2 separate regions of the Homo sapiens genome follow, and region 1 is linked to region 2. The links come from fine-mapping of genetic effects on gene expression. A gene starts in region 2. The other region holds a variant in brackets. All regions are shown on one strand. Distances are from middle to middle. Region 1 overlaps CES5A (carboxylesterase 5A). Region 2 holds the start of CES1 (carboxylesterase 1).

The links. PIP is the estimated chance that this variant, and not a neighbour inherited with it, causes the effect.
Region 1: its variant is the best candidate, but not a certain one, in a credible set for the expression of CES1 in whole blood (TOPMed, PIP 0.52).

What each region holds. Positions count from the first base shown.
Region 1 is chr16:55,858,738-55,863,737 of GRCh38, forward strand. It overlaps CES5A (carboxylesterase 5A), which reads right to left. Exons shown (of 13, transcript NM_001143685.2): 6 at 4,611-4,715; 7 at 2,675-2,779; 8 at 810-950. Among named protein-coding and RNA genes, the nearest start is that of CES5A, 14 kb to the right of the region's middle. The variant A/G (reference allele first, on the strand shown) is at 2,436.
Region 2 is chr16:55,830,335-55,835,334 of GRCh38, forward strand. CES1 (carboxylesterase 1) reads right to left here and starts at 2,762. Exons shown (of 14, transcript NM_001025195.2): 1 at 2,670-2,762. The coding sequence starts at 2,721.

The DNA of each region.
Region 1 (5,000 bases), 28 kb after region 2:
CAACAGTATTAGGAATTTGAAGTCTCCACTCCTCTGAGGACAGATGAAAAGTTTATTTCCAATGAAGAGAGTCTTCCTATGCCACGGAATCAAAAAATCATGGGTCTTTCCCAGCACCTGGGCCTCAGCTCAACAATCACTCCCTAGAAGAGCGTTTCCTGACCACCTGTTATCCTCCCTAAAGATACCTTCTCTCCTCACTTGTGTCCTTCATATATCTATCACTCTCTGAAATCATCTTCTCAATCTCGTGTCTTATCTGTCTCTCCCCACCAGAGTGTAAGCTCCCAGAAAGCTCATATGCTCAGTTTTTGTAAGCCTCTAATAAATGCTCAGTACATACTTGTTGAAAAAATAAAATGATTTAACAATTTTGCAGCTTATGCAACCTTAGCATTCAGGGATGTCAAAATGCCAGAACCAAGGCTGGATGTGAAAAATTTGAAGGACTGAAGTTTTTCAAACCTATCTGAATGTCAGCTCTGAAGTGGTAACTGCATTTTTTGGAAACAATCATTTATAATACTGTTTGAACAAAGACCAAATGGACCGATCCCCTCTTTCCTTTTTATACAGTTGTTTCTTCCGCCCTAAACCTCATTACATGAGAAGCAAGGCAGACACTTGCTGTGACTGTCCCGGTCCTCACTTGCCCTCTTTCAGAGAGAGTAAAGGTGATCACTGTGTGCTTGGCTGGTGGGCTCCAGCACTTACAATACCTGATGTCTTCTGTGGAAATGCCCAGCTGTTGAAGCCAAAGCTGCATCACGGTTTGAGGGAGTGGCAGTATGGACAGCCAGAATTCTTACCATAGGCAGCAGGAAGCCACACTCGTGGTTATTGACTCCGATGATGGAAGGAATTGCTTTAAATGCTTTCTGAGACAATAGATCTAGAGGCTCATTAGGAAAGAAAGCACCATCAACCACTCGAGTGAAAGACTTTGTTTTCTGTAATAAGGAAGAAAAAAAAATCATCAGCTATCATCAGCTATTTCTGTTCACAAAATCTGCTGTCCCAAATCCTGGCCAAGAAAAGCCAACCCAGTCTAGCACTGGCTTAAATGCACTTAAAAAGTAAAAACAAACACTATGGGCCCAGCTCAATATATCAGTCCCTGGAAGCTCTGCCATGTACTTGGGTGAGGGGGCTAAACTTGTCTGTGCCTTATTTTCTCATCTGCTAAATGGGAATAATAATAATATCTACCAAGAAAAACAGTGGCCTGTTATATGGTTTGGCTGTGTCCCCACCCAAATCTCAAATTATAGCTCCCATAATTCCCACATGTTGTGGCAGGGACCTGGTGAGAGGTAATTGAATCATGGGGGCAGGTCTTTCCCATGCTATTTGCATGATAGTGAATAAATCTCATGAGATCTGATGGTTTTATAAAGGGGAGCTCCCCTGAACAAGCTTTTTTTTTGCCCACCACCATGTAAGATGTGCCTTTGCTCTTCCTTCACCCTCTACCATGATTGTGAGACCTCCCCAGCCATGTGGAACTGTGAGTTTATTAAACCTCTTTCCTTTATAAATTACCCAGTCTCAGGTATGTCTTTATTAGCAGCATGAGAAGAGACTAATATAGCCTAGCCCAGAGATTCTCAAAGTGTGGTTCCTAGACCAGCAGCATCAGCATCATCTGGGAACTTGTTATAAATGCACATTCCAGGCCCACTTCAGGCTCCTCAATAAGAAACTCTGGGGTTGGGGTGTATAGCCCAGGAACCTTCTTGTAGCTGGTCCTCCAGGTGATCCTGATGCATGTTTAAGTTTGAGAACCACTGGCCAAATGCAAAGGGAAAAATGGTGGTAGATGAAGTGGTCAGGACTGTAGGGGTTGTAGGAGACTGTAGGTGTCTCCCTGAGACACAGTGCCTTGGACATGCCTGGATATTTTTTGGGTCTCAGAAAGCAACACTCAGCCCTAGTCATGGTTTCTTTAGGTTTCTGTTTTGAGATTTGGGTAGAAAGGAGCACATGGAAGAGTTCGACACATCAGGTCCAGGACTTATTATCCATTTCACTGAGTCTAGCATGGCTCAGAGTGGACATTCAGTACACACCACATAACTAGCAAATATTGAAATCTGAAAGATAATGATCTTGTCCATTCAAAGACTGTCATCAAAGGCTCTCAAGATTGGAAGGGACATAAAAGATCACCCGGTCCAATTAACTGTCACTGATTGAAAGTTTGTCAGCAGTCAGCTAGATTTTGCTTGAATACCTGGAGAGGTGGGCATCTCACTACCTTCTAAAGGAGCCCAGTCCTTTTCCAGACAACTGAGGTCTTGGAAGGTTTTCAGTTACACAAAACTAAAATGACTTCCTAATAGAACTTCCAGCTCCTGATTTTGACTTCAGCTTCTGGAAGCATGCATAACAAGTGTGGTCCTTCTCTCCAGTGAGATGCTTTCAGGGACTTAGAG[A/G]CAAGCCTTGTACTTTGCTGAATCTTCTCCAGGCTAAGTTGAACCCCTGCCCCAACAATTTTCTTAAATTACCTACAAGGGTTCTATATCCCTACTTATTTTTTTACAGCTGTTACCAAGTACCTCAATCCTCCTCTTTTCTATGTTCCAAATTCAAATAAATAACAGAGGGGTAGGATTTGTTCATCTCTCCGTTCGAAGGGCAAGCCTGCCCCCAAAACTGCCCCCTCTGTCCTCACCTGGCTGAGGGTCAGCAGCTCCTTGGAGGGTTTTGTCCTCAGGCACCTCAGCAGGGCCTCAGAGTCTGACGCATTGTTACCACAGAAATGTGCAACCACCTGCAGCTATTTTGTAGAGAAGGACCGGGTTAGAGCATGATATTGAAAGCATCTAGGAAAATGAAAGCTTGAAAATGCCCTCCAATCAGCCACAGGCTGGCCCTCCATATATGAGTCCATCCTGCTAACACTGCCTAGACCCACACCCCTATAATTGAAGGTGCACATGGTGGACAGTTTCCCACTGCATCACCCTCAGTCTCTTGCCTGGCTCTCCTTGTCATCTTTAGTAAACACCACAGCTGGAGATGGGAGTTTGTCAGTCTGTGGCTGTGGAATGGAATCAAGATTCCTGGTCACAAAGAGATCAGTCCTGTGAGCTTGGCTGCATTGGTATTTTGCCCCTCTGGAGTCTAGAAGCCCAACCTTGAGGTGCTGAATGAAGACAAACACCAAGAGTGAGGAGCAGCTTTGGAAGCTCCTTCATTGTCAGTACAGGCAGGACTCCAGATCAGATTCTCAGCTTGTCAGCCCTGCCCAAGCCCCAGGCCCACTCACAGCCTGGAATGTCCTACCTGTCTTTTTCCCTGCCTCTATACCAATCCTTTTCATTCTTTAAGGCCCAACTCCTTCCCTCCACGATGTCCTTTCAGGGCATTGCAGCCCCCAGAAACCCCTTCCTCATCCAATCTCCTATAAGCTCGATGTTCCCCACCTTCCATGCCTGGCCCATTGCTGAACATCTGCTTTCCTTGTCACTGAACCTCCATATTTGTAGAACTCACTCCCTGAAAGTGGTGGTTCTTAATCTTCTGGGAGTCATGGATACTCTGAGAATCCAGTCAAAGTTACAGACCCTCTCCCTGGGAAAACGTGCAAGCATGTGGAGTCTGGTACAGTTGTGGAACCGCTTCCCAAACCTATCCATGGATTGCAGGATTTAATCCTATCCATGGATAGGTGATAAAAAGATTATATTGCCCTCAAATTTAGGATGTGCTTTCTCCACTGATAAATCCCAAAGTTCTAACAGAGCAGGGAAAATAGTGGGCACTCAGTGATGTGTGTCAAATGAATAAATATATGCCCAAACTGAAAATAGCTTTATGGAGAATGTTACCAAAATCAATATTTCTGTGTATTGAGGGAATTTTTTTAAATTGCATAACTCTATGTTTCTGCTCTTGGTATATACTGTTATTTTCTGTAAGATGTTTAAGAAAATTTACCACAAAAATGATTTATACTCAAGAGATGGCTGCACAGCCCAGTGCTTAATTAATATGCATTGAATGAAACAGCTCATTCATTAACTCATTCATCCGGAACACTTATGGCTGCCTGATATATACCAGGTATTATGCTGGGGGCCTGAAGGACAGAGAGATCCTGGTCTCTAGGGCATCACTATCTAGTAGATAATTAAGACAAGAGACAGATGACAAATATCGTGGGATAGATGCCCCTTATAATCCCATGCCAGACAACGTGAATCAGTCACAGCATTATTTCCCACTGAGCTGGAAACAGCCTCTGAATCTTTCTTAACATAATGCCCTGGGTATTCATTCCCAGTAGAGTAGCGTAGGCACAGAAGAACTGTATAGAATACAGGGGACTGACTTATCTATCACAAGCAAAGAATAACGGGTAAGACATAAGAACCATAACGCACATACACACACACTTGTGCACACCAGTGGTGTGGCATTGTGTAGCTAGACCCATTTCCTGTTGAACCAGACCTTTCACGGAGGAACAAGGTTCACCTTGGGCCAGCATGAGGTGCCTTGGGCATGGTCACTAAGGAAAGCCAAACACATGGTGAGAAGGTGCCTGACCACATTCTCTGCTAACTGAGGAGAGGAAGGTGGCAAGGTGTTAACAGTATACGTACGTCCTCACTCTTCTCATAATCATGGGCCTCCAGGTAAGGGATGATGGCCACCCCACTCTCCATGATGGCTTTGTGGAATAAGCCTTTGGCCATGGGAGACAGTATCTGGAGAGAGAACACAGAAGACCCAGGAAAGGTTACTCCCCACCAACACACATACCATTCATCCCTCTTCAAAGAAACCTTCCCAGGAAGCCTCCTTAAAAGCTCTAAGCTTAGAGGGGAAAAAAGCCCTGGTTTAGGGGTTAAAGGACTAGCTGTGAAGGTTTGGGCAAGTTACTCAACCTCTCTGAGCCCCTGGTTCTTCATGGACTTTGATGTCAAATGTTCAGGCATGTGATTTCTAGCTCCTTCACTTTCTACCTAGGTAACCTCGGACAAGTTGCTTAA
Region 2 (5,000 bases):
AGCAATGGGTGGTGGCATTACATGTGGCCTGTTTTCTTGGTGATTTCCACCTTTTCAGCACTGTATGGGATTTCCGGTCTTCACCTGAAATCCTCCCCCCCATCTTAATTATTTTAAAATTTTAAATAAAAAAAGAAAAAATATGTAGAAATATGATGATGTCTAAAAGGTATTTTGAAAGACTTGGAGACCAGGCACAGTGGATCACCTGTAATCCCAGCACTTTGGGAGGCCAAGGCAGGCAGATCATTTGAGGTCAGGAGTTCAAGACCAGCCTGGCCAACATGGTGAAACCCCCTCTCTACTGAAAATAGAAAAATTAGCTGGGTGTGGTAGCATGTGCCTGTAATCCTGGCTCCTCCAGAGAGAGAGAAGAAGGAAAGAAGGAAAGGAAAGATGGAAGGATGGAAGGAAGGAAGGAAAGAAGGAAGGAAGGAAAGAAGGAAGGAAGGAAGGAAGGAAGGAAGGAAGGAAGGAAGGAAGGAAGGCAGGCAGGCAGGCAGGCAGGCAGGCAAGTGGGAGTGAGGGAGGGAGGGAAAGAAAAGAAAGGAAAAGAAAAGACTTGGTCCCTGACCAGAGGTGGGGGAAATGGAAGGGAAAGAAGACCAAAGAGCTGGCTTGTAATGCTGGATCCCTGTTTACACAGGCTCGGTGGAGATGTGAGTGGGATATCCAGGCAAGATGATGCCACAGGATGAGCGCACTTCAAAGCTGGAAGGAAGCCTGGTGAGGGAGCAGGGCAGAATCTTCTCCTGGACTGTGAGGGTACATACGGTGGATGTGTATGGCTTCATTGAAGATGCCAGTGTGAGAGGGAAGAGAAAAAAAAACAAAGGTCAAACACAGGGACCACTACGGCCAAGACCAAAGATCCATCAGAATAGGGGAGAGAGAACGTTCCCATGTCTTTGAAGCCCAGGGAGCAAGAGGGCGAGGAACCAGCTAAGAGTGCTGAGGACTTCAGGGAGGTGGAGGAGAGTCAAGTCAGAGAAGAAACCACTGGGCTGGTCATGCTCAGCTCAGGGATTCCCTTCAACAGGATGAGGTGGATGGCAGCCAGATTGCCAAGGGTGAAAAAGTGGGTGAATGGGGGGAGGCAGAAACAAGTGTGAGAACAAGACCAGTTGCTGCTGATGTTATATGAAGCACGAACATGGTGGGCACCTACTATGTGCCAGGCATGCATTCCAGTTTTTTAAATTAATCTTCAAATAAGCCTTGCTGGGTAGGCATCAACATGCCCATTTTACAGAGGAGGAAACTGAGGAAGTGGAGGCAGCCTGTATGGTCTTCCTAAGGAAGGAAATGGATGGCATTGCCAGGAGTAACCAGAGGTAAAGGAACATTCAGTTCCAAATAGGCTTCCTCTCTTCTCTGCCCTTCCCCACAGTTCCAGAGCTCTCGCAGTGTCAGGCTGCCAGAAGGAAGACAGGATGCAGACGGGGCTGGGCTGTCAGGATTCAGGACCCAGAGACAGACCTAGGCGTGATTTTCGGGTTGACCCTGGGCAAGTACATTTCCCTGTGTGAGTCTCAGTTTCTCTGTCTATAAAATGGCATGGGGGTATTTCGAGGCCCCTCGCTGCACCCCTCTATGTACCATGTGTTTTGCTTTCTGTATTCTGATGCTCTGGCATCTGAGGCCTTGTTGACCTTGGAGAAACTCCCTCCCAGGGTCCAGCCACCCCAGAGCCCACACCCCAACTGCCTCTTTGATCGGGTTGCCATGCCCTGGCCACTACCCACCTGCCCTAATCATGCCAGGGCTAGGTACAAAACAATTAGGAACAGCCCCTGTGCCCCAGAGCCCCTGAAGTATCCCAACTTGCCAGTCCTCAGCCTGCCTGCCCTGCCTTTCCTCTTCTATCCTTGGAAGCCACAGTAAAAGCCCCTTGGCCTCAGATCCGCCCTGTCCCCTCCCCAGGCTCTGCTGCTTCCCCTTGTGCCCCGCGCACTGGTGTCCCCCTCCTGTTGAGAACATGAGTAAGAAACTGTCTTTTTAATGGCAAGAGGTCCTGATATAGTGGCCTGACCACAGCTCAAATTTTCTATTCATACACTACGTTTTTAAACAGCGCCTTTATTTATCCATCCCTTTTTCGTGCTTTCTACATACCAGGCGCTGCCAAGAGTGCTTTAGAAACAGCCACCCATTTCCTCCTCACCAAAGCCCAGTGAGGTAGGCAGCACTGCCACCTCTGTTTCAGAGAGGGGGTAACCCAAGCACGGAATAGCGCAGTCCCTTGCCTAAGGACACACAGCGAGGAAGCGCCCAGCGGGGACTCGAACCCACGCACTCTGGCTCCAGAGTCGATGCTCTTAATATTATGTTGAGCCGCTCTCCGTGATCCAGCCGTAAGGGGACTAATTAAGGGACAGCAAACTGAGCTGCCTAAATTTCTCGTGTGTGCGGCCTGAGGTGGGCCGGCTGTCGGCCTGCATTTGGGCGAGCAGTACAGGGCGATCTCAGGATGTTCACCCTCCCTGCGTCTCCGCGCGGGCCAGGCTGGCCGGGCTCAGCTGCTCCAAGTCCAAGTCCTAATATGGAAGTCGTGCCCCGCCGCAGAGCCGGACCTGTTGTGTCTTTGCCTTTCTACGCATCTGCGCCCACCTCGGCCCAGAACAAGGATTTCAAAAAGTGCCCCGCATTTTGATTTCAGAAGGACTCACCCCAAGCCGCGGAAGCAGAGAGAGTGGCCAGGATAAAGGCACGGAGCCACATCGTGGAAGGGCGACAGTTCTCGGGGCCTGCGAGGTCTCTGTGCAGTTCAGAGGGACTGTGCTGTCCAGCCCTGGAGCCCAGCCCCGCCCAGAGTTACCGCCCTGCGCTGCCAATTGCCTAATCCTCTAATTGGGAGAGATCAGAAAAGCCCTCCCTTTCCTCAGATCTCCCTGGGCTTCTAGTGGGGCCTCAGGCCACGCCCACCCACAGTTTACCCTCTTTCATCAAACCAGTCTGGACTCTACTGTCAGATTACAGAGAGCTGTAAACTTGCCCAACTACTTGTTACATAAGGGTTCACCCTTGCAGGACTCTAACCTCAGTGCACTGTGACGGCCCCCAAGGGCCCACACCAGCAGGCAGATGCTTTTAGGCAAAGGGAAGCTTTGATCTGAGGTCCTCAGAAACAACTGGAAAATGTTAGAGCCACTCACACCTCACAGCTCAGCTGGGTAAGTTAGGACATATCTCAGCTCCCAGGGCTTGTGTTTTCATAGCTTTCCAGGCTCTCAAGCTTGGAAGCGATCTTAAATTTCATCGAGTCCCCTTTCTGAGGCCTGAATTAGCTTCACAATATCCTGCCAACTGGTCCAGCCTCCTGTCACACACCATCGGTGTCAGAGAACTCACTACTTTCCAAAGCAGGGATTTTTGGACAGAATGTAAAAATGAACTCCGTCCCCCCATAGTCCCTGGCTGTTATCATCCATCCATCCAAGTACCCATCCATTTTGTGAACATTTACCAAAATGCTTGGCACCTGGCCATGTATAATGGATACAAAGACCAATTCAAGACATGGTTCAGCTTCTCAAGGGGCTCACCATTGTAGACAAGACAGATGGGGTGGAGGAGCAGTAGGGGTGATGTCAAGGCAATGTGAAATCACCAAATTAAGGGGATACAGAGTGCTCTGGGCACACCTGGAAAACTGTCATTTACAAGCTGCTGGGGACACAAGGAAGTCACTCAAAGCCTCTTTCATGGGATTATTAAATGTCCAACAATAGGGAATTCACTAAACACACTGTGGTACCGCTGGCTAAGGAAATACGATGTATTCACTCAAAATAGTGATGTGCACAGCTATTTATTAACAATGAAGACAGGATGCGTTGTGAAAGGAGAAAATAATAGGTTATAAACTGTTGTGCGGTGTAGGCAGTTCCTCAAAAAGTTCAACACAGAGTTTCCATATGACCCAGCAATTCCCCTCCTAGGTGTCTACCGAAGAGAACTGAAAGCATGTCCACACAAAAGCTTGTACACAAAGAGCAGTGTCATTCATCCTAGTCAAAAAGTGGGCACAACCCGCATGTCCATGACCTGATGAATGTGTAAATGAAGTGTGGTGTATGCGTGCAGAGGCATATCATCCAGCCATAAGAAGAACATGCTACAACGTGGATGAAGCTGGAAAACATCATGGTAAAGGAAAGAAGCCAGCCACAAAAGGCCACATGTCGTATGATGCTTTTTATATGTAATTTCCAAAATAGTCAAATCCATGGAGACAGAAAGTGTTTGACAGGGTCTGGGGAAGGGGAAAGAGACGGGGATGAGGAGTGACTGCTAATGGGCATGAGTTTTATCTTGGGGGTGGTAAAAATGTCCTGGGATTAAATAGTGATGATGTTAGTGCAACTTTGGGAATATACTAAACACCACTAGATTGTACACTTTAAAAAGGTAAACTTTATGACATGTGACTTATATTTCAATAAAATAATGAAATATTTTTGAAAATCTAGATAGGTATAATATGGTCCCGTTTTGGTAGTAACATATGTCTTTATTTGCATAGGAAAATACTGGAAGTCTATATATCTAATTAGAATTACAACAGCCATTTCCTGGCTGTAATCTTGTCAGTGTTTCACTTATTTGCATTTTCCACTTTTATTCCTTCATACATTCATTGACAAATATTTACTGAGAGCTTACTGTGTGGCAAACACTATGCCGAGAGTTTTGTATGCAGGATCTCAGTTCTCAAAATAACCCCGTGAGATTAATGCTGTCTCACGATCTTAAATTGATTTCTGTTGTTTAAGCCACCCAGTCTGTGATATTTTCTTCTGGCAGCCTAAGTAGACTAATACATAGGCTCAACTCAATTCCGTTATTTATTCCCAAAAGAAACTAAGGCCCAGAGATGAGGAGGGATTGCCTAAGGTCACACAGCAACTCAATGGCAAAGTCAGAACCAGAACTTGAGGCTTCTGCCTTCCAGCACAGGGTGGCTGGCAGCCATTTCTCTTGCTTTTATACATCAGGAA